3 separate regions of the Homo sapiens genome follow, and all the other regions are linked to region 3. The links come from fine-mapping of genetic effects on plasma protein levels. A gene starts in region 3. Each other region holds a variant in brackets. All regions are shown on one strand. Distances are from middle to middle.

Region 1 (8,179 bases), 190 kb before region 3:
CCCTCCTGTGTTAACCAGCACTCAGATCAAGACAGAGAATATTTCCAAAACCCCAGAAGGCTCCCCGGGCCCCTTTTCAGTTAATACCTCCAAGGTTACTACTATTTAGACTTCTATCACATAGATTAGTTCTGCCTGTTCTAGAATTTCATACAGATGGAGTCATACGGTATGTGCCCTTCATTCGTGTTTGGGAGATTCATCCATATTACTGTGTGAAGCGGCATGGTAGTTTGTTCATTCTTTATTGCCAGTTGGCATTCCACATAGAATATACAATCTATCCATTCTCCTGCTGATGGCCTTTGTTCCCCAGTTTTTTACTTGAATGAATAAAGTTGCTATTGTTTTCACACGTGTCTTTTGGTGTCAACTCATTTTTGTTGGGTATAAGTGGAATAGGCAAAGGTATATTCTTTGAATTCTTTTTTTTTTTTTTTTTTTTGAGACAGTCTCACTCTGTTGCCCAGGCTGGAGTGCAGTAGCACAATCATGACTTTCTGCAGCCTCAAACTCCTGGGTTCAAGTGGTTCTCCTGCCTCTGCCTCCCAAGTAGCTGGGACTACAGGTGTGCACCACCATGCCTGACTAATTTAATTTTGGAGAGATGAGGTTTCACTATATTGCCCAGGCTGGTCTTGAACTCCTGGCCCCAAGTGATCCTCCTGCCTCAACTTCCCAAGGTAATGGGATTACAGGTGTGAGCATCATGCTTGCCACCCCCTGTCTTTTTTTTTGACAGCGTCTCACTCTGTGGCCCAGGCTGGAGTGCAATGCTGCCACCATAGCTCACTGCAGCCTTGAACTCCTGGGCTCAAGCCATCCTTCCGGCACTGCCTCCTGAGCAGCAGGGACTACAGGGATGTACCACTGCGCTGGCTAATTTTATTTAATTAAAAACATTTTTTTTGTAGAGATGGGGTCTCACTATGTTGCCCAAGCTAGTCTCTAGCTCCTGGACTCAAGTAATCCTCCTGCCTCAGCCTCCCAACATGCCGGGATTACTGGTGTGAACCAACGCATCTGGGACACTTGATCCTTTCGACAACCTGGTGAAGTAGTTATTTTCCCCCTTTAACGGAAAAGGAAACTAAGTTCAATAAGGGTAACAATCCTATCCAAGGCCACACCCCAAAGCTATTAAGTAGCAGAAACCACATTAAAACTAGAGTGATCAACGGTCACATGGTCAAGACTGTTATTCCTCCCAGGAAACCCCTGAGTTCCAAGCAAATCAGACGGCTAGTCACCCCAATTCAAACCCGACTGGACTCAAAAATGGAGCTTTTTTTTTGTTTTTTGTTTTTGTTTTTGAGATGGAGTCTCGCTCTGTCACCCAGGCTGGAGTGCAGTGGTGCGATCTCAGCTCATTACAAGCTCCGTCTCCCGGGTTCACGTCATTCTCCTGCCTCAGCCTCCCGAGTAGCTGGGACTACAGGTGCCTGCCACCACGCCCGGCTAATTTTTTGTATTTTTAGTAGAGACGGGGTTTCACTGTGTTAGCCAGGATGGTCTCGATCTCCTGACCTTGTGATCCACCCACCTCAGCCTCCCAAAGTGCTGGGATTACAGGCATGAGCCACCGTGCCCGGCCCCAAAAGTGAGCTCTTAATCATCAGGCTGGGATTTCCTCTGGCCTAAAATTTCACCAGACAGCACATGGTGTTAACATAGACTCAAGGCAGAATATTTTGTCTTCAAAACACTCTTGTGATATAAGGATTTTACTTGTTTTTGTTTTATTTTGAAGAAAGTGATTTCATTTAAAGTAGATCTGAGTTAGGTAAGAATAAAATTATTTATATGAAAAGAATTTTCTAACACATTAATCCATCAAACAAGGATTTATTCAGCACCCATGAGCTGAAAAGAAGTTTAAGGCAGTCCTTGACTTCAAGAAATTAATCATTTACTTAGGGAGCTAAGAGTAAAGCTTAAGGAATAAAATTAGAGGATAATAAACAGTAATAATAATCACCCCATATGTGAGTACTTACTGTGCCCAAGGGGCTTTACCGAGTCTAATTTAATCTTTACAACACAGCTGTGAGATATGTTCTGCTGTTATGCTCATTTCAGACGAGGAAACCAAGACTTGGTGAAGTGAAGTGATTTGGTCAAGGAAAAAAATCATTGAGCTGTTCACTTAAGATTTGTAGATTTAATATAAATGAGTTACGCTCTGATAAATCTTTATTGAATGGGAAACCCTTGAAAATACGGACATTTTTTGCTTTCTCTGCTCTTGAATTTCCTATTCCCCAATAATTTAGTGCAAAATGTTAAAGATGTATTTTGGCTTGTTTCATTTTAGGAAAATAGCAGGTCGGGTCAAAATGGCGCTTTTAGCCTTAATGGCTTGGGTGCAAATAGGCATAGCTTGTGACTGTGAAATCAGAGGTCCTGGGTTGCAGAGGGGTCCTGGAGCTGACACAGGCCAATGGGCCAGTACAACCTGCTTGGTTCCCCAGCTGCATGAACTGTTGGCCCCATGGTCAGTCCTGACCAGAAATGCACAAGGGTATTTGTCCCCTGGGTCCTCAAGGTCAGCTCCTCTGTCTCCCTCCAACACACCCCAAACCTTATCATATCCCTCAACCTCCTGACCCTGCCACCCATCTCTGCTTTTCAGGTTTGCAGGCCCCCACCCAGAGGCACCTTCATCATTCCTCCCTGACGTGTCGACTTTCATTTTCCTAGGACGAGTCTCATTTGACAGTCTCCTGCCCATATTTCTAAGCTCTCTGGGTCTCGTTGTGCTATTTCTCTGTCCTCTCTGGGGTTTGTAACACCAATCATCTGCAGGTTTCATTAGCATGCTGTTTACCCCTGTCTTTCAGATCATTAATGAAGATGTGAAGTGAGACACCAATCCTCACAGCCCCCACCACGTGCTCCCTCCCATGCCTGGCGCTGCTGGAGTCATTATCCTTCCTGGTGTGACAGGGTCAGAACCAAACCAATTTGCATCAGTCTTTGGTGATGTTGTGAAGCGTCGCCTGCCCTGCAATCCTGCTGCTGTAACAACTGCTTCAGCTGTCTGTTCTGGAGTGCTCTTCGCTCCTTTGGAAGACTGATCAGATCTGGCCACCCCAGTTCTGGCTGAAAGCCCTAGAGCGACCGCAATGGTAGGGCAGGATTCAGGGCTACACATGGCTGACATTGTTCCTTCTTCGTTTTGCTCTTCTGAGCTGGACAGAAAGCAGTCCCTCTTTGGAAAACAGGATGGACAAGTGCATACATTAGTGGAGGACGCAGCAGATGTGGCAGGCATAGAATTTTACTCATTGCTCCATCTATTTCTATCAAGGAAAATGGGGAGTGCTCCCAATTTCCGCCCATTTTCTAGCCCAGGCCTAGTCAGATGTGTGGGCTTGTATATTCTGGGAACCTGGGGCTGATGTGGTCAAGTCACTTCTTGGGGACAAGGTCAATTCTTCTCCATTTTCTCATGTCATTTGGTCCTGAGGGTTTTATATCTTCTTTAGCAATTCCATGACTATGCTTCTCATCCTGCAGGGAAACTGACTTTATATACACACTTGTCTCCCAATAAAAGTGAGAACCACCTCCTACATATCCCTTGTGTCTTCCAGACTCCAACTCAGATGAAATGCACTTCCTTCTCTTTCCTGATTGTGCAGCGCCTCCAACTGGTTGTTTGTGATGAAAACATGAGTATAATTACAGACTCTTCTCTGACCCATTTCTACTCCTGACCCCCAACTCATCTTTTCTTCCTTCTCTCCAATTGGGAAGGGGAAGGGAAGCAAGGAGAAAGTAGCGAAGGAAACTCTCGCAAACACATCTGAAGTAAGATGCTGCATGTCCAAGAGCTGGGGGAAACTTAACGCTACGACTCTACAGCAAAGTTAGGTGAGACATATTTTCTCAGGGTAGGTAAGGAAAGACTGAGGAAAAAGATAGCTATTTGGCAACACTGAACACCTACTGACTGAATGATTTTTTTCTGCTCCTGGGCAAAGGCTCTGAGGAGTGTGGGGAGAGATGGGACTGTCATGAATAGGGAACAAGTTTTTTTTTTCCACATTACATGCAATGAGGTAGAGATCCTAGGGTATAGCTGGATGCTTATTAGGTGCTCAGTAAACACTTATTGGTGTACAGATTGATATACATTTGCATACTAAAGAACAAATTTCATTACCATATACAAAGGTTATCGATGAACTATGTATGTATGCACATGTGTGCAGGATAACAGGCTGAGCTGAGAAGCAGGGCTTTTAAAATCTGTATATCCGGCCCCAGAGGCTTTTTTCTCCCTGTATTATAAAATCAATACCTGTTTCCGTAGAGAGTTTGGAAAATGTAGAAGAAAACAACAATACCCCATATTCCTCCAACCAGGCAGCAAGCACTATTACCACCTTCGCCTATTGCCTTCCATTCACCACCCCACTGTAATTGTTATATCTGGCCATTTCACTTATCCTTATGACAAAACCATTTCTTCCATGATATCATAACCTCTTTGCAAACACACCAAATGGCTGCATGGCAGTTCGCTACGGGAATGTACCATGATTTACTCAACAGCTGCACATCTGAACAGCCTTTGGGCCACTTGAAGGCAGAGGCAGCAGCAGCAGAGGTGGATGGCGGGAAGTAGGAGGCCAAGGTGAAGCAGCTCGCAGGACCTTGCTTCCCCATGAGCC[C/TC]CCCGACCACCATTCCTCAGAGATCATTTCTGGTTCCAATCCTCACATATCCTTCATGGGTCCTGCCACAGCCAGCACTTCTCATTTCTACTCAGCCTCAAGTCACTGACTTTCCCAACTTGACTCTTCTCAGCTGCTCCTTTGTGTGAAGTCACTGGCTCAGGCCAGCTTGGCTCCTGGGGCTTGGCTGCGTCCAGAAAGGCCCTGGGATGTGACCTTCAGCCTCGCTTGACCCTGAGGCCTCAGGCTGCAGTCAGGCGAGGGTCTCTCCATGGGCTCCCAGAGAAGGCAAAGCCCAGAGGAGGCTGCTGCGGGAGCAGAAGCCTGAGTGGACCCTGCTTAGTCCTGGAAAGGGACCTGACAGGTTTGCGAGAACCTGACAAATCTCACACCATAGAAAACTATCTGGCCCAGGCACAGTGGCTCATCCCAATACTTTGGGAGGCGGAGGTGGGCGGATCACTTGAGCCCAGGAGTTCGAGACCAGCCTGGGCAACATGGCGAAACCCCATCTCTGCAAAAAATACAAAAATTAGCCAGATGTGGTGGCACGTGCTTGTGGTCCCAACTACTTTGGAGGCTGAGGCAGGAGGACTGCTTGAGCCCAGAAGGCAGAGGTTGCAGCGAGCTGAGATCGTGCCACTGCACTCTAGCCTTGGTGACAGAGGGAGACCCTGTCTCACCAAAAAAAGGAAGGAAGGAAGGGAGGGAGGGAGGGAGGCAGGGAGGGGGGAGGGGGAGGAGTGGGGGAAGGAGGGAAGGGAAGGGAAGGGAAAGGAAAAAGAAAACTATCTGGAGGAATGTGGAGGACTGGTGGGTTAGGGGTAGGAGGTTATGACTGAATCAAACAGGGAAGTGTGTTCCTGTGCAGTGATTGGAAAAGCATGGATGCTCAGAAAATACTAGGACTACAAAGATTAGCAAAGTACAGTGATTTGAGGCTTATGTATGCCAAGTTCAGTATCAGTTCAGAAACTTGCCAATGTCACAAAGTATACCTTTCCCTCCCTTGCTTAATGCCACTGTCTGTAGAGTCAACAATGGTTTCTACTGAGTGTCCATGCTGGCACAGGGCCTCAGTGGGTGGAAGGATGGGGGTAGGAGAAATAGTAAACTGTCAGCTCTTCTGAAGGGTTACAGAAATGGTATTCTGCTTAACTGACTAGTCAAGGTAACCAGAAGTTACTATATTTTCCCTATAGGGATTGCCAATGTTTTTTTTGTTTGTCGTTTGTTTTTGTGTGAGACAGTCTCACTCTGTCACCCAGTGTGGAGTGCAGTGGTGCAATCTCAGATCACTGCAACTTCTGCCTCCCAGGTTCAAGCAATTCCCTTCCCTCAGCCTCCTGAGTAGCTGGGAGTACAGGCACCTGCCACCCTGCACAGCTAAATTTTTTTGTATTTTTTCATTTTTTTTTTATAGTAGAGACGGGGTTTTGCCATGTTGGCCAGGCTGGTCTTGAACTCCTGACTTCAAGTGATCCACCCGCCTCAGCCTCCCAAAGTGCTGGGATTACAGGTGTGAGCCACCATGTCCGGCCTAGGGATTGTCAATTTTTAACAAATGTGAGTATAATAAAAAATTAAATACTACATGGAATCTGTTTTATAGATCTATCCATCAAGCAATTATATACGTAATGGGTAAGATATGCCATGCACCATTCTCAACACTTTGCAATACTCGTTTAATCTCTACAGCTACCCTAGTAGTTAGGTGCTATTTGCACCCAGGCAGCCTGACTTCAGAGCCTGTGCCCTTATCCATGATGCTGATATGACTCTTTAAAGTGGAAAAAGTCCTAAGGAAACCAAGGCTTAGAGAGAAGTAACTTACACAAGATCACCCCTGCCTCTCTCTCAAAATCCAAGCACTTACTATATCTTAGACCAGCAATGAGGCTATGAACACCGAATGTCAAGGCACAGTTCATTCTTTCAACAAATGCTTATTTTAGCACCTATTATGTGCCAGGTAGTTCTGTTTATAACCAAAGAAACTGTAGGAAATTGAACAAATTTGGATCAATTCTTTGGCATGTCCCAAAAGTTATTTTTAAAAGTCAAATCTTATCATTATCCTCTCTGTGCCTCAGAAAACTGAAGGTAGAAAAACAATGCAACTCTGATTACTTGAGTTTTTTGGCTCCTCAGATTCTACATAACTGAATCTCCTTTGGTATTGGAGGTCACTTTCAGAAACATCAGGTATAGAGATCGAGACAGAAAGCAGAGGGCAAGAGAGAGATGAAAATATGTGAGCCCAATTCTGCTCCGAACTTGGGTTTAATTGAGATTCCAACTGCCACTCTCCCCTGCATTCCTTTGTCCCTGGCTATGACCAAGTTTACGGCTGTATCGCCCCAAGTAATCCCCGTAATGGGCTGCAATCCTGGGGGAGCTGTTTTTGTTCATTAAGTGACCAACCTCTGAGCCACATGGAGCGCGGCCAGTTACAGCTTCTTGCCCTGGCAGATGGGCCACTTTTCTGTTTTAAAAAAACAGGGATCTTTCAGGAGAGAGGAGATAGTAGGCAGGGGTTGGGGACACAATCAGGGACATAAAGGTGATGGGTGCTAGAAATGAAGGCCAGAGTGAGGGGGGCAGTGGGTGCCCCTTCCAGGTCATGCAGTCTTCTAGGGCAGAATTCACTCACGTGCTGTGTGTTAGCTTTCTTTGCAATGGTAACTATAGTTGTGTAGGGCTTACAGTTTGTGAAGGGCTCAATGTAGTTCCTGGAGTGATGCTACCAGTCTGCAGAGGTGGGAGGAGTGAGGGGGCCATAGACAGGAGGCAGCGAATGAACAGAGTAGGGCAAATAGCTGAGAGGGGGCTTCCCCTGAGGGTCAGAAATTCTCAGTGCTTCAGACTCCAGCTCAAGTGACAGGGGCCAGGCTGTGCCAAGAGCAGTTCTCTCAAGCCAACTGACTCTTACCTCTCTGCCCACAGCCCCAGTGTCTGCTTCTTGAAGTTGGGGAAACATTGCAGCAGCTGCTTGTTGGGAGACCCGTCCCCTCACTGCACTGCCCCACCCCCTCCCCGCCACCTGCCCCACCACCCCATGTCTGTCCTCTGGGTAGAGTTGTGTGAAGCGGAAGACAATTTGGGGCTTATTAGTGTCCCAGGGAGACATGTAACTTGTGTTGCTGGGACCCAAACAGCAAGAGTCTTAGCGGCAAACTCCAGCCGAGAAAAGACTGAGGAATTGTCTCACCTAATTACAGGGAATGGCCCTCTTTGTGTTTGTGATTCGGTACGGTTGTCCGATCGCTTTTGATCGCTTTTCTCTATTTGCTGGCTCAGGCCATGCTGGAATTGTGCTAATTAGAAGAGAAATGGACAGAGTGATCCTGTCAGCCCTGGTTACTGGTGGGGACAAAGCAGAATATTATTCTGAGGCAGTGTTTTGTGAGGGCCCTTCTTCCAGCTCTCATTAGGAGGAAGGGGCCCACAGGAGGGGAAGGTTCCAAATGCCTGGCCCAGCTAATGGAGCACTGGGG
Region 2 (8,179 bases), 200 kb before region 3:
CCTGGCACTGTGTATGCATCGCCAGTCATCCTTACAAGGAGGCTCAGAGAGAGGTCACTTGCTCAAGGTCACGTAGCAAGTCGGTGGCAGTGGTTGAGTCCAGATTGTCTTTGCCAATAAAGCCTCATCTCCCCTTTCATCAGTAAAATGGGGGTGATCGGTTCCGCCCTGGGTCACAGGTGCTTGGAAAGATTGGATGAGGTCCACAAACTGCTTTGGGAACAGTACAGAGCTGTGCTCTCCTGGGGGGATGGAGGAGTGGGGCTGACCCATTTGGGCCTCAGAGGCTCTGCTATCACTGGGTAGAGCTGCCTTTTGAGACCCTGGGAACCTTCACTAACTCCAGGGTCTCGGCTTCCCCCCGCCCCTCAGCTCTCCAGCTCTCCGGCCTCCGGCCTCAGGCTTTTTCTCCCCGTCTCTAATCCTGACCTCATCAAGTCCTGGGAAGAGGGTTGATCCACAGGAGCAAATCCCTCATTCAGAGGGGCAAAATCAGCTTAATTTGCAGCAATTTGAAGCAGGTCTTTGCCAGGATTTGAATATCAAATTATCCCACAGCCTGGGCTGGTCTGGGAGGCCTCCCCCGGCTGCAATATGGACCGATGTGCTCAGGCTTCACCAGGGAGATTGTCCTGGGAGTGACTGAAGCTGAGGCTGTGGAGATGGGAGTGAGTGTCAGAGGGTAGTGGGCAAGGTGGGGGTCACCAGTCAGCCCCCACTGCCAGAGGGCACTGCAGCAGTGACTGAGGGACAGATGGAGTTTGGGGTCAAAACCTCCTGTTCTTGAGACTCACCGGGGGCTCTTGTCAAATGTGCGGATTCCCAGGCCCTTCTACAAACATAAGAAATCAAGATTTTCTTGACTAAGAAAGTTTAGAAAAATCCGGTGCAGCTCAGTTAGCCAATCAACAAACACTTGCTGTGCACAATCTGTACTGCCTCTCATTTTGAGAGAATCAGCCTCCTCTGGTGCCCACCCTGTTCATTCCCAGCCTCTGGTACTGTGGACAATATTTCCTTGGCTGTCTGCTCCATGATGGCCCCTGAGGCCTGAGTCAGCGGCTGCAGAGAGCTCTTCAGCCTTCCCTTCCTGGTCTGCATGCCCAACTCCTCTGGCCACCCGGCCCTTTCATTCCTTTTCTGCAAGCTCAGGCCTAGCAGACATCCTCTTATGTCAGTCACACAGGCCTCGCTGCCCAGACCTGAGCCCCGGGGCTCAGACCCCTCTCATGGGCATGTCATGAGCTGTGAGCCTCTTCAGGAAGGCCCGAGGTTGGTGAAACATTCTGGTCCCGCCACAGTGTTGTGTCCCTGTGGGCCCTGCAGTGTAAAAGTAGCAGCCAGGGATGTTGGGATGGCTTTGCGCAGGCCCACTGTCCAGCCAGCACCATCAACAGAGATGAGAGGCTCTCGGTGTGACAAGCATTATAAGAGCCACAAGTGCTTCCATTTAATTCTCACAAAATCCTATGGAGTAGGTACTATTATTATATACACCCATTGTATAGATGAGGAAACTGAGGCACAGAGAAATTAGTAACATGCCCCACCCAGGTCATACAGCAATAAGAGGTGGACCTGGGATGCATACGCAGGCAGTCTGACTCCAAACTGCTCCTCTTAACCACTTTGTTCTGTCTCCATCTATCCACCTTTACCTAAAATTTTGTCCTTCTCTATATTCTCCACAGCAATGACTTGCCTTATTTTTAAAGGCATAATCACAGTGTGTTTGGGGAGCAAAGAAAGGAGCGCATAACCTACACTAGGGCAATCACAGAGGCTTTTTGGAGGTGGTGTCTTTATTTGTTCAATGATGTGGTAGAGCAACCACTGTGTGCCCAACACTGGTGATACAGACATGAAGAAGCCATGGAGCTCACAAACGGGGGCCTGAACACCCCATCGGCAGTGCTCAGTGCACTGATGGAGAAAACACAGGGCATCGTAGAAACACTGGGGACACCCCAAAGCCCAGGAGATCAGGGAAGACTTCCTGGAGGAGAGGCACTAGTCCCCTTCACTAGATCTAGTCATTAACCTGAGGTTCAGATGGCCCAGAGGTCCCACTGGGCACACTCACCCTTCTTTGTCTCAGCCAGTCCATCCTCCGTGGACCGTCTGGACCAACCAAGCTTGAGACCCTCTCTGACCACCTGTCCTAGACAGGTAGACCCCCTCAGGGGAAGTCTGTGTTCCCTACTGCTATGTGTTCTTAGAGGCGGGGCCTGAGCAGGAACGAAACTCCTGAACCCCAGATCCTATGCCTAGCAGGGTCTGGTGTAAGTCATTGGCTGCCTTGGGAAAGCCCAGTGGTTTGATTCAAGGATGACTAGAATTTAGAGCAAAAAGGGACCCCAGAAGCCACCCAAACCTGTTTTGAAGGAAGCCACAGGAGATGCCCACGCCCCACAGCTCAGAGATGCTGCAAATTCCAGCCTCCCAGTGCCCTATCTTCTCTCTGGGGTGGTCTAGCCCCACCTGGCACTCCCCCAGTCTTTGTCCCCGTGTCTGCCTTGCCTGATGGTGGCCAGGGGGCCTTTCCGGAATAACGATGGTATTGGCTCAGATTAAGGGCAACTAGCTGGCTCTTGGCTTTTCATTTTTATATAACAACTAATCTCCTTCTAATCAGCCATTATTAAATTATATTCCATTTTTAATTCATTCACAGATCACCGTTGGGACAGCTGGATGGATAATTGGAGAGAGATAATTTATGTAAATGAGGAGCAGCAGAAGGTGGGGGAGAGGGAGGCCCAGGGCGCCAAACGGAGCCCCCTCTGTGTCCAGGCTGGGGAGGGGGCAGTGGCCTGGCTCCTCCTGGAAACCCGCGCCTGGGGATGCTGGGAGGATTGGGGGCTGCCATGGGACCTCAGGGCTCCTGACCGGTGGTTCCTGGTGTGGCCCCTCAGCATCACCTTGAACACTTTTGGCAAATGGGAAGCTCACTACTTTGGGGGCGGAGTGGCTCTCAGACATCAGCTCCCCCTTTTAGAAGCAGATCCTGAGAGGCAGAATGCCCCAGAAAATTCTGGAGTCAGAGCTGTTTTTGATTCCAACTCCACCACTGTGTGCCGTTTCCTAACCTTAGTTCCCACGTCTGCAAAACGCAGGTAATGACAGTATCTACCTCATAGAGTGCTGTGAAGCTTAAGTGCCTGGCACCTAAGGAAGAGACCAAGACAAGTACATGGTGGCTCTTATCACCCTTATAGGACAGTGTGTATCTTTCAGAATCTTCCTCTCTAACATCTGCCTTCTGGCCATGGAGCTTCCTTCTGGTAACACACAAAAGAAATCCACTTCCTTTGCATATCTGAAGACAGCTCTGTACCACTGATAATAACACTCCGGAGGCTTGTGTCTCATTGTGTCCTCCGTGTCTCATAGTGTCTCATTGTATCCTCGGAACGACTATAGAAATTGGGGGCGATTGCGTCCATTTTACAGATGAATATACTGTGGACCCAAGCTCTCTCCTGCCAATTCCTTCAACAAAAACGATAACAAGCCCCAGAAGCCTGCTTAGAAAGGAACACGAGGCTCAGAAAACCTGGATCCCAGCCGGAGGCTATTTTGGGAAGGTGCCTTGGGGACTGGCAGGCAGGGTCAGGGATGGCAGGGAAGGTGGGTGAGAGAGGTTGGACCTCCACCCTTCTTGGCTGTCCCTTTGGGGCCCCAAGAATCAGGCACGATGGGCATTCATGGGCACAGGTGGTCTGACAGAGCTTGAGGGGCAAGGTCTGCCTGTGCCTGGGGCTGGCATGGGCTGGCAGGGAGGCCCTTGGACCATTCCCAGAGGGAGACAGGGGATTAAGGGGGGTTAGGGAGGTGGTCCCAGAGGGTCCATGCAGAGTAATGGGATTAGCTCTTGGGCAGTGAGTGAAAGTTATTATCGTGTGGGGCCTCTGGCCTCCCACCCAAGGCTGCAGCTGTCACCCATCCTGGGAGGCACCAACAGCCCCCTCCACCCCCACCTTGGGGCAGGCTGGCACCTCTTCTCCCCACAGGCTTTTCTGCTGTGGTCATCTGCCTAGGGGCTGGCCGCCTAGCTTTAGCCTCCTGTCGGTCCTTGGCAGACTGGGCCACCCACACAGTATGCTCTAGACTTGCTCTGTGCCTCGGTTTCCCCTTGAACAGAAAGATACAAGAAGGTGCTTGAGATCCTCTGAGGCATGGGGGTTCGGAGCCAGGCCCCCTGGGTTTCCGGCTCTGCCACGCATTCGCTGTGTGACCCTAGGTACATCTGTCAGCCTCTCTGTGTCCTAATTGGTAAAATGGGGGCAGTAGCAGAGCAGCGTTAGGGTTTTCATAGCGGAGGGCTGGGTAGGGAGCATAGGGTCGGCCT[G/A]TTGGTGCTGGGCACCTCCTAGAGGTCGGGGCCGCGGAGGGCTGCGGGCCTAGGGCCTAATGACAAGAAGGGACCAGTCTTGTCGGAGCCTCGCAGCCCCTGCGAGGCGGGTGAAAGGCAGCGCCTGAGCGAAGCCGCAAGCGGGAGACTTCGGAGACGCTCCCGGCTCCCTCTAGCGGTGGCCGCGCGAGTGGCGCGGCGCGAGCGCGATCCCCTCGGGGTGGGAGGAGACCAGAGAGGCAGGTGGCGGTTGCCGGTCCGGGAATCTGGGCCAGTCCGCCTTCCTCCAAGGCATCAGAGGGGAGGGATTTCAAGGGTCCTCAAAGGTTCCCCTTCTTAAGCAATGCATAGCACCCATCCTAGGAGCGTCCGTCCGTTCACTTGTATGTCTGTCCGAATGGAAGTGCCTCCTTGGGCCAGGTGCGGTGGCTCACGCCTATAATCCCAGCACTTTGGGAGGCCAAGGCGGGCAGATCACTTGAGGTCAGGAGTTGGAGACCAGCCTGGCCAACATGGTGAAACCTCGTCTCTACTAAAAAACAAAAAATTAGCCAGGCGTGGTGGCGCATGCCTGTAATCCCAGCTACTTGAGAGGCTGAGGCAGGAGAATCGCTTGAATCGGGGAGGCAGAGGTTGCAATGAGCTGAGGTAGCACCACTGCACTCCAGCCTGAGTGACAGAGTGAGACTCAACTATAAACAAACAAACAAACAAACAAATAAATAAAGGGCCTCCTTGGAGGCCCAACACATCAGGGACATCTCATCCACCGCTTACTCCTCCCAAGCCCAGCAGAGCAGGGAGGGTGGCGGAGCATTTGCCCAGTGTGCACGGCTAATGCCATCCCGTCCACGTGATCAAGTGGTACCTGGAAGAACCTGACAAGGCAGCTCCAGACTAAGGACAAGTCAACCCCTTTTCTAGCCTGTTTCCTCATGGTGAACTGACAGGGTGGGACTAGGTCAGTAGTTCCACCTTTTCACTCGGAAGAGCCCCATCACCCCGTTTTTTAGAGACAGGGTCTTGCTTTGTCACCCAGGCTGGAGTACAGTGGTGCCTCCACAGCTCACTGCAGCCTCGACCTCCTGGGCTCAAGTGATCCTCCTGCCTTGGCCTCCCAAAGTGCTGTGATTACCGGCGTAAGCCACCGCACCCGGCCCAGGGAGGCACTTCCATTCGGACAGACATACAAGCTAATGGACAGACGCTCCTAGGTGTGAGCCACTGCACCCGGCCAACTTTTACGTAATTTTAAAGAGAAGAAAAAAGTTCACATTCATGCAGTGGAATACTGTGCTGCTATTCCACATTCAATCTCCAAGACAGTATTTATTTATTTTTTTTTAGACGGAGTTTCGCTTTTGTTGCCCAGGCTGGAGTGCAATGGCGCAATCTCGGCTCACTGCAACCTCCACCTCCCGGGTTCAAGCTATTCTCCTGCCTTAGCTTCCTGAGTAGCTGGGATTACAGGCATGTGCCACCACGCCAGGCTAATTTTGTATTTTTAGTAGAGATGGGGTTTCTCCATGTTGGTCAGGCTGGTCTCGAACTCCTGACCTCAGGTGATCCACCCGCCTTGGCCTCCCAAAGTGCTGGGATTACAGGCATGAGCCACTGCGCCCGGCTGACGGTATTATTTTTAAAAAAGGAAGATGGACAGTACGTTTTATTTCACTTGTGAAAATGAAATATGTATATACATATAAATATTTTTTAATTTCTGGAAAAGTGTATGAAAAACTGGTTACTGGTTGGTTGTGGGAAACAGAATCAGATGGCTGGAGGGCAGGGGAGTGAGGGAAGCCTGTGGTTTCCTCTACACCCTTATTTTAGTTTAAAAAATTGTGTGTATATGTATTATCTATTTTGATAAATAATTCATTAAACATAACAGTATATACAGGTGTAACATATTCACGGAATCTCTTACCACTCCTGTCAGCACACAGTAGGCACTTAATAAGTGCTAGCTTTTTTTTGTTCTTTGTCTCTCCAGAGCATCCATTAATGATTTGTGTTCACCTGACCATCACCCCTTTACAGTGAGCTTAATTAGTAAGGTACAATGTTTGCTAAATGACCGAGACCAAGGAGAGGAAAGATGTTTCCAAGCTTTCATGGCGGCGAGGCTAAGGGTCTCTGTTACCACAGGAGATAGGGAAAGGTCTTCCTGTGCCAGGGCTGAAGTAGTGGGTACAGATTACAAGGGGCGGCTAGGGTGGGGTGAGGGGACAGATCTGGCATGGGAGTGGTGGCCTTTGACAGTCAGTGGGAGCGCAGAGCTGTCCAGGTGGCCCCCAGCCTCACCCTGCCCTGTGCCGAGGAGAGCGGGAACTCTGTTCAGCCTCCCAGGACCATGGCTGGGGGCATGAACTCAGTGCCCAGGGGCTGCCTGGAGACCCCCCTTGCTTTAGGCCCTGCAGTCCCAAGACCCAAGGGGCCCTCTTCTTCTTGGTCTCTAGTTAGAGAACTGTGGTCTTCTCATCTGGTGAGCTCCATATGGCACCAAGGGCACTTTGTGAGTGGGGCTCTGATCCCTGGAAGGTGCTGGGCGATGGGGAGGGAGTGGAGAGGAAGTGGTAGCCAGATAGCCCGGCATCCAGCAACCGTGCGTCCTAGCAGCCCATTCACATTTTTCTTTTCTCTTTCCTGTTTTTTTTTTTTTTTTTTTTGAGACAGTCTCACTCTGTTGTCCAGGCTGGAGTGCAGTGGCACGATCTCAGCTCACTGCAACCTCTGTTTCCCAGGTTCAAGCGATTCTTCTGCCTCAGCGTCCTGCGTAGCTGGGATTACAGGCACCCGCCACCTGGCTAATTTTTGTATTTTTAGTAGAAACAGGGTTTCTCCATGTTGGCCAGGCTGGTCTCGAACTCCTGATCTCAGGTGATCCACTCGCCTCGGCCTCCCAAAGTGCTGGGATTACAGCCATGAGCCACCACGCCTGGCCAGCCCACTCACATTTTTCAAGGGTGCACTACAGGCTTGAGGCCCGGGGGCTCAGAATTTGGGGATACAATACAGCTTCAGCAGTTGTTAGGTGAGGTGGCCCTGGGTCTTAAACCACCCATGTCCACTGTTGCCACTAGTAAAGACATTGAACATTTACCATGTGGCAGGTGCTCCACAAGCATGATCCTACTGAACCCTCACAAAGACCCAGGACAGTGTTTAGAACAAAAAAAATTTTCTTCCCAGGGATGGAAACTGTGGCTCAAAAACATTGTCTCTTTCTGGGTTCACAGAACTCACAAGTGGCCAGGCCAGCATTGGAAGCCAGCTCTGCCTGCCCGCACAGGCCTGGACGCCCAGCCACAACCTGGTGTCCCCTCTGCCCAGCTCTCGCCTTGGCTCTCAGTAAGTGCCTGGAGCTGGTCACCACGCCTTGAAGCTCCGCCCTTCTCCGTGGCCTCCAGTTCCTACCGCCCCACTGCCCCAAAGCTGTCTCACCTGCCTCTAGGCTCTGTACCTCCCTTCCAGTCCACTCAGCTTCCCAGGAGGTCCCCAAGTACCCCAGTGTCTGGGGACAGTGGTGGGCAGAGGGCCCCAGGGCCTCTCAGCTGGGCCCATGGCTGAGCGCTGTGGGGAGGCGGGCGCAGTGCACAGAGCTGATCCTAACCAAGTTTGCCAGCCCAGCTTTTCTCATGGCTCTCACACAATGGTCTGCTTTGTGCCCACCTGCCGATAATGCTTAATTAGGCGAGGAGGTGATTAATTTGAGGTAATTGACAGCTAATTAGAGGCCCACAGGCTCATTAACTTGACATCTTGTCTTCGTGAATTGGCTGAGTAGGGTCAGGTGATGCAAGCCGCTGCTTCTCCCTCCCCAGC
Region 3 (8,179 bases):
AATACATAACCACATCAGCATCACCATAGAGGTAGTTAATGAGGCCAAGGAGGCTTTCTACCTACCTACCATATTATCTTTCTCCTGATCCTGCTTCTTCAGGTAACTTAATACTGACATTATGTCTTTCTCCATTTTACATTGCTTTTTCTTTAAGTCCTCATTACTTTTTGCCAGTATCCGTGAAGTATCACGATACTTAATCCTAGAGAGTTCTGTGACTTCCAACCTGGCCTCCCAAAGGGAGGCATTGGCCTTGGCTCTGTCCACCACAGATTCATCTGTTTTTATTAACTTCCTGCATGGGAAGAGGATATTGACAGTATATGACTATTTATACAACTCTAATATGCAGATAGTATATAACTCTATTATATTACTATTAAATTTTTCTCTTTTTTTATTTGTTTTGCTTGGCATTGCCTGGCACACATGATCAAATATTGTTGGAAGAATAAGTTAATAAGAAATACATATTCACATTTGAAAAAAGAAAAAAAAAGAAATACATATTCACTTGTATTCACATAAGATAATTAAGTAAGTGCCTCTTCCTGGAGGAGGGGAGTCCTGGAGCATAACTCGAAAAGACTGGTAAAACAAAGGGAAAAGACAGGATAAGCCAAACTCATTTCAGAAAGCTTTCATATCTTTTTTTTTTCTTTTTGAAACTGGGCCTGGCTGTGTCACCGGGCTGGAGTGCAGTAGCACGATCTCGGCTCCCCAGAACCTCTGCCTCTTGGGCTCAAGCCATCCACCCACCTCAGCCTCCCAAGTGGCTGGGACTACAGGTTCATGCAACTATGCCCAGCTAATTTTTGTACTTTTTGTAGAAATGAGTTTTTGCCATGTTGCCCAGGCTGGTCTTGAACTCCTGGGCTCAAGTGATCCTCCTACCTCAGCCTCCGAAAGTGCTGAGATTACAGGTGTGAGCCACTGCGCTTGGGCAGTTTTTATACCTTTTCATTTACTTATTTGATTCTCCCATATTTATTTTTTTTTTAATAGAGATGGGGTCCCACTATGTTGCCTATGCTGGTCTCCAACTTCTGGGCTCAAGTATCCTCCCACCTTGGCCTCTCAACGTGCTGAGATTACAGGTGTGAACCAGTGCCCTAGCCTGATTCTCCTGTAGTTAAACTATCTTTTCTATTCCTACTCACTCAGTGCTGGACTTTGGTTCTCTCCACTGCAAACCCATTATCTCTGTTCAGTTTCTGCATGATGATACCCATTGGTAGTATAACTGTGATCTCCCACCCACTTTACCCTCCACTTTTGAGTGTGTTTTTTTTTTTTCTGGGGGAGGGACGGAGTCTCACTCTTTCACCCAGGCTGAAGAGCAGTGGCGTGATCTCGGCTCACTGCAAGCTCCGCCTCCCAGGTTCATGCCATTCTCCTGCCTCAGCCTCCCGAGTAGCTGGGACTACAGGAGCCCGCCACCAGGCCCGGCTAATTTTTTGTATTTTCAGTAGAGACGGGGTTTCACCGTGTTAGCCAGGATGGTGTTTTTGTTTTGTTTTGTTTTGGGCTAGGTCTTGGACAAAAAGTCAAGTCACTAGGGCAAATACGTTAAATAGTTTATCAGCTGGTGCCACAGTTCACCGGACTTTTTTTTTTTTTTTGAAACAAGATCTTGCTCTGTCATCCAGGCTGTAGTGCAGTAGCACCATCACAGCTCACTGCAGCCTCAACCTCCCAGGCCCAAACGATCCTCCACCTCAGCCTCCTAAGTAACTGTGACTACAGGCATGAGTTAGCATGCCCAACTAATTTTTAATAAAAATTTTTGTAGAGACAGGGTCTTCCTATGTTGTTCAGGCTGGTCTTGAACTCCTGGGCTCAAGTGATCTTCCCCTGCTCAGCCTCCCAAAGTGCTGGGCATGAGCCACGATGCCCCACCCACCGGGCTTTAAGGATGCCTGAGAAACCATAATCATTTATATAGAGGTGGAGAGGAAAAAGGATGGATTCAAAGATTAAAGTGGTAAAGGAAGAGATTTTTCTAAATATTTATTGTATAAGCATTAACAAAACACTCCCCCTTATATATGGTAGGTACCATGATATATAAATATGTACATATTTAAGAATATTTCACCTGTATTTGAATTCTAAATATTTTCACACATATGTACATGTGGACCTTTCTATACTGCCACCCTCCACATCCACTTTCCTACCTCTGGTTCTCAGTCCTCTTCCACAGAGGTAATGGGTTTGCAGTGGAGAGAACCAAAGTCCCACTTTCACCTTTTGTTCTCTTCAAATTAAGGCCAGCTCCATTCCCAACCCCTCAGCCTGTTATAGCTGTTGATGTCCCTTTCTGGCATGATTTAGGCACTAGTGATACACTGTCTCACTACGACCATCCAGGTATCAGGTCTGAGTGGCTCGAAGTACTTGATGCGACAGGGCATGGTGGCTCACGGCTGTCATCCCAGCACTTTGGGAGGCCGAGGCGGGTGGATCACCTGAAGTCAGGAGTTCGAGACCAGCCTGGCCAACATGGTGAAACCCTGTCTCCACTAAAAATAAAAAAATTAGCTGGGCGTGGTGACGGGTGCCTGTAATCACAGCTACTCGGGAGGCTGAGGCAGGAGAATTGGTTGAACCCAGAAGGCAGAGGTTGCAGTGAGCTGAGATCGTGCCATTGCACTCCGGCTTGGGCAACAAGAGCAAAACTTGGTGTCAAGAAAAAAAAAAAAGTACTTGATGCAAGAAATTAGACACTCTAATAGGACCACTGATACTCACTGTAGAAACAAAGCCAGGTTTCTCAAACAATGGGTCATGGAAAATCCAAGGAATAAGGTCTCTTACCCTTAGTGTTCCTCATTGTTCAAATGTGTACTGTAGAAGCATGGTCAAAATCTGAAAACATATGTTAGTGAGTTCTAGGAATGTGATAAGCCCTTGGCACTTTAAGGGCTAGACTAACTGTGCAGTTATGTAAAAACAAAAAAAAAATACCATAAAAGAATACTTACATTAACAAATGGGAAGAAAAAAGCCACATATAAGTATGTACATTGGGCTATCGTTTTATTAAAAAAGAATACTCCAAAATATAGTAGTGTTTATTTTTGGATAATGAGACTACAGGTGATTTTTGTTTTTTCTTTTGGTACTTCCCATGTTTCCCAAACTTTCTGTATTGAGCATGAATTACTCTCTTAAGTTACTTTACAAACATCTCAAGTTTGGTGCCAACTCTGTGTTCCCATATATGGTGTTGTTGCTGGACACCACGTATGACTCCAACGTGTCCAGAAACCACCGGGGTCCCCCAATAGGGCTAGTAGCAATCTAGCAGCAACTCCAGGCCTGTAAGGGGTTAGTGCTAGAACATTACCCACCTCAGTGGCTCTGATCAGTTTGGGAAAACCTCAATAATTATCCAACTTGGTAAAATACTTTAGGTGTCCCCTTTGAACCAAAAGAGATCTCTGAAAAGGCCCAAGGAACTACTTTATACATCCTCTACACGTTTAAGATAATCTGAACACATAGTAGAGATCTGCCAGACTATGGACATGGGAGCTGTAATCCTCACAAGCCGGGAGAGCCGGGGAGAGGGTCCGAGTGGGCCGGCGCGGGGGGCGCCAGGTTGCCAGCCCCAGACCCGAAATCCCAGGCAGGCCCAGGGAGAGGGGACTCTCGGGTGGCTTCTCCTTACTTCGTGTCTTTGCCTTTGCTCTTGCCTTTCTTTTTGTCCTTTCCCTTCGACGGCATCTTGGCTTCCCCAGGGGCTCCGCTGTCGTAGTTGCCCAGCCGCGGCCGCCCTGGCCAGCTCTGTCTCCAAGGGAACCGGGACGCCGAGCTGGCAATGCCCCACCCGCGCCGCTGACGGCGCGCGGAGAGCGCACGCGCCCGTGACGTAGCCCAGGCGCCGCGGCGCGCGGGGTGGGGCGGAGGTCGCGCCGAGGGCGGCGGGCTGCCGCGCAAGGGTGGCGCGCGCGCGGTGAGTGTGCGAGTGTCGGCGGCGCCGGATCCTCTACGTGGGGCCCGGGCTCTGCGGGCGGGAGGCGGGAGCTGGCAGCCCCAGGCGGTAGCGCTTCGTCCTGCGGCCTGGGTGTGTCAGGAGTCGCTGCGGTCGGGGCGCCCTTGCCTCAGGAGACTTAGATCCCCGCTGATCCGCCCGTCCCGCCGCAGTGGTCTGAGCCGCAGCCCTTTCCCGTGCCGCCCGCGGGTCCCGTTCCTCCCGTGTCTCCATGCCGCAGCCAGCGTGGCCGCGGCTACCTTGCCCTCGCCCCCGCTCCGCTTCTGCCGCTCCCGGCACTGCCTTACTCCTTTGGGTTGCATCTCTTTCCTGGCTTTTCACCCTTGCTGATTCTGTAAGGGATAGTGCAGCCAGCGGACGTCCCAGGCCAAATGTTTTTTGATAGGCAGTCGAGGACTTTCCCGAGGGCGGTGGTTGAGGGCGAGGCTGCCAGCCTCCGAAGAGCAGCGGCACGCCAGGGAGCCGGGCGGGGAGGGGAGTGCTGCCACCGAGGTCGGGAGCAGGGTCCTCGGCCTCACTAGGTCCTGTGTGGCCGATACTTCCTGCCCACGACCGCCCCCCGGATTTCCATTTGCTAATACCGGTCCGCAGCCTTCTTTCCTGAAAGTTGCATAAAGTTGGAAGCTCTTCAACTTGCCTCCCCGACTCCTGAAATCCCGAATACACCTCTGAAAAGGAGTGTACTCACAAGTATTCTCATTTTTCAATGAGAGTCAGTCAGTGAGTCATTAAGGAAGGTACGGTATTCTGAGTGCCAAGCCAATAGTTAGGAGACTTGTGGTTGAAGCTCTGCTCTGTTATACTCCATTTCAAATTAAAAAGTTTATTTTAAATGTGGTTGTAGATCCTTCGTCACCATTTCTCTAGGGAGGACTTAATCCGTACACTCCTTCCCGATGTCTTTGACCTCTAATTACTCCCCTCCGCCTTGTTTCCCACTTGCATAGTTTCTGTTTCTGAATTTCTGTTTCTTCTGAGGGAACATGCCGATTTGGTAATGATAAGCCTTGTAAACTTTTTTTTTTTTTTTTCTGAGAGAGAGTCTTCTGTCACCCAGGCTGGAGTGCAGTGGGGCATCTCGGCTCCCTGCAACCTCCACCTCCTTGGTTCAAGCGATTCTCCTGCCTCAGCCTCCCCAGTAAGTGGGACTACAGGTGCATGCCACCACACCCGGCTAATTTTTGTATTTTTGGTAGAGATGGAGTTTCACCATGCTGGCCAGGCTGGTCTCGAACTCCTGGCCTCAGGTGATCCACCTGCCTCGGCCTCCCAAAGTGTTGAGATTACAGGCGTGGGCCACCGCCCCGGCTGTAAACCTTTTTTTTGAGACAAGAGTTTTGCTCTTGTTGCCTAGGCTGGAGTGCAATGGCGCAATCTCGGCTCACCACAACCTCTGCCTCCCGGGTTCAAGCAATTCTCCTGCCTCAGCCTCCCCAGTAACAGACTATAGGTGCGTGCCACCATGCCAGGCTAATTTTTGTATTTTTGGTAGAGACAGAGTTTCACCATGCTAGCCAGGCTGGTCTTGAACTCCTGGCCTCAGGTGATCCACCCGCCTTGGTCTCCCAAAGTGTTGAGATTTACAGGCATGAGCCACCGCCCCCGGCTGTAAAATTTTTTTTTTTTTTTTTTGAGACAGAGTTTTGCTCTTGTTGCCCAGGCTGGAGTGCAATGGCACGATCTCGGCTCACCGCAACCTCCACCTCCCAGTTCAAGCGATTCTCCTGCCTCAGCCTCCCGAGTAGCTGGGATTACAGGCACACACCACCATCCCTGGCTAATTTTGTATTTTTAGTAGAGACAGGGTTTCTCCATGTTGGTCAGGCTGGCGTAAACCTTATTATACATACCATCTGCCAGCATGATCATGGCTTTTTCTTTTCTTTTTTTTTGAGATGGAGTTTCGCTCTTGTTTCCCAGGCTGGAGTGCAATAGCACGATCTCGGCCCACCGCAGCCTCCACCTCCCAGGTTCAAGCAATTCTCCTGCCTCAGCCTCCCGAGTAGCTGGGAATCCAGGCATGCGCCACCATGCCCGGCTACTTTTGTAATTTTAGTAGACACGGGGTTTCTCCATTTTGGTCAGGCTAGTCTCGAACTTCCAACCTCAGGTGATCCGCCCGCCTCGGCCTACCAAAGTACTGGGATTACAGGCGTGAGCCACCACGCCTGGCCGATCATAGCTTTTTCTGAGTGTATTTCTGGTATACTTTCACACTCCCGTGAGTCCATAGGCGGAATCGCCATATATTGAAGAGTTTATCTCTGATGTAAAATCTATAAAGTTACCATTAATTTTGTATGTGTAAGGTTCTGAAAAAGCACACTGTTGATAAGCTGCAGAAAAGAGAGTAGGGCATCTTCTGTCACAGGCTGTATATTTGGAATTTATTCTAGAAATTGGTAACTTTATAATATGAAAGTCAGTCCAAGACTCCTCATTTGAACATAGGCTTACAGATTAATGTATGAACATAAAAATTTGACTATAACAAGATTATTAATGTATGCGTAGTACCTTAGTTATAGTACTTTATAGTTTCTTTTATTGGTTTTTGGGTTTTTTGATGGTTTTTTTGAGATAGGGTCTTACTCTTAACCATGCTGGAGTACAGTGGCAGGATCATGGCTCATTACAGCTTCGACCTCCTGGACTTAAGTGATCCTCCCACCTCAGCCTCTGGCATAGCTGGGACTGTAGGCATGCACCACCATGCCTGGCTAATTTTGTATTTTTTGTAGAGACAGGGTTTTGCCATGTTGCCTAGGCTGGTCTTGAACTCCTGAGCTCAGGTGATCCTCCTGCCTTGGCCTCCCAAAGTGCTGGGATTACAGGCATGAGTCGCCACACTTGGCCTAGTTTATTTTATTGTATTATATATATTTTTTATTGACTAAGTTTGATTTTGTAGATAAAGCTGTTGTGACATGAATATGGCTCAGGGAAATGCCAAGATTTCATACTCTGGTAGAGGTGGATATAGAGTCTACATTCTTCTGAATCCCCTCATTTTCTACCAAAGAACTGGATGTTGTTACTGTCATCTGCTGGTGAGCAACAACTGATAGTACAGATAGTAGAGTAGGAAGTTGCTATTTAGTAGTTTATCTGGTAGCATTTCCTTCCACAGTTACTGGTAGGTGCCTTTACTATGAAGTTCCAGGAATTATTACTAAATAAATTTTCCTTGTTTCATTGTTTAGAACACTAATGCTTTTAAACTTGGAATAAGCCACTTCATGTTTTGTTGACTTGGTTTTGTAATTCTTTTTCTGTCCAGTTTTCCTTGTTCCTGGTCAACAAAGAAATGTGGAGTGTCTTGGCTGAATCCTCATACAGACAAGATCATTATGGTGCTGTTAGGTAGGACTTGTATCCAGATGTAAGGTAATATCTCCACTAGCTTAAATTTATAAATGTATTTCAAATGTTCCTGAATGGTGGTTTTCTTTTTTTCCTGAATTTAATTCTCTGTTTTTTGCCAAGTGATGTTAATTTTGTCCAACAAGCCATATATAAAATTTAGAACTATTATGTATCAAAATAGATAGAATTTCTGGCTGGTCATGGTGGTTCATGCCTGTAATCCTAACACTTTGGGAGGCCAAGGCAGACGGATTGCTTAAGCCCAGGAGTTCAAGACCAGTCTGGACAACATGGCAAAACCCTGTCTTTACAAAAAATACAAAAATTAGCTGGGTGTGGTGGCCATGTACCTGTAGTTCCAGCTACTCAGGAGGCTGAGTTCAGAGGATCACCTGAGCCCAGGGAGATCATGGCTGCAGTGAGCCGTGCCACTGTATTCCAGCCTGAGCAATGGTGTGACTGTTTCTCAAAAAAAAAAGGGGGGGCGGGGGGTGGGTAGTACTTCTGCTTTTTTCTTCTAGTAGGTCCAAAACTGGGTTTACTTTATAAATTCATCTATAACTTTATTCGGGTTTACCTTAGAGGCCATGTTTCCCTTCATAAATCATTCTTGAGATCACCTTATAGCAGATGGTACTTTATAGGTGGATCAGTCTAAGTGAACAACTTTAGATTTTGTTTCTACATAGCCTTTAGAATCCTGAATAAATATATTATTATCCAAACTGTTTCTTATGGGAGTTACTTTCTTTTTTTTTTTTTTTGAGAGGTAGTCTTGCTCTGTCGCCCAGGCTGGAGTGCAGTGGCACA

Which allele goes with the higher level. Positions count from the first base shown, and alleles are read on the strand shown. Strength reflects both the effect of a copy and how common the allele is.
For the plasma level of the protein whose gene starts at base 3,926 in region 3, allele C in region 1 goes with a lower level than allele TC (moderate association).
As copies of A replace G in region 2, the plasma level of the protein whose gene starts at base 3,926 in region 3 goes up (strong association).

Evidence for each region. PIP is the posterior inclusion probability: the model's chance that the variant is causal. Protein levels are from antibody-based Olink assays in UK Biobank. Linkage for the fine-mapping came from a reference panel and not from the study's own genotypes, which makes the PIPs less certain.
Region 1: its variant is fine-mapped to the plasma level of the ENTPD5 protein (UK Biobank, PIP above 0.99).
Region 2: its variant is fine-mapped to the plasma level of the ENTPD5 protein (UK Biobank, PIP above 0.99).

What each region holds. Positions count from the first base shown.
Region 1 is chr14:74,203,613-74,211,791 of GRCh38, reverse strand. It overlaps LOC105370564 (a long non-coding RNA gene), which reads left to right. Exons shown (of 3, transcript XR_944025.3): 3 at 2,841-2,931. Among named protein-coding and RNA genes, the nearest start is that of VSX2, 32 kb to the left of the region's middle. The variant C/TC (reference allele first, on the strand shown) is at 4,680.
Region 2 is chr14:74,214,172-74,222,350 of GRCh38, reverse strand. It overlaps LOC105370564 (a long non-coding RNA gene), which reads left to right and starts at 4,587. Exons shown (of 3, transcript XR_944025.3): 1 at 4,587-4,771; 2 at 7,594-7,705. The variant G/A (reference allele first, on the strand shown) is at 4,352.
Region 3 is chr14:74,015,035-74,023,213 of GRCh38, reverse strand. It overlaps ENTPD5 (ectonucleoside triphosphate diphosphohydrolase 5 (inactive)), which reads left to right and starts at 3,926. Exons shown (of 16, transcript NM_001249.5): 1 at 3,926-3,964; 2 at 7,284-7,390. It overlaps BBOF1 (basal body orientation factor 1), which reads right to left and starts at 3,865. Exons shown (of 12, transcript NM_025057.3): 1 at 3,680-3,865; 2 at 70-298. The coding sequence starts at 3,735. RefSeq lists enhancers at 1,114-1,408, 1,174-1,468 and silencers at 3,749-3,998, 4,029-4,098, 4,109-4,248, 4,289-4,358, 4,274-4,568.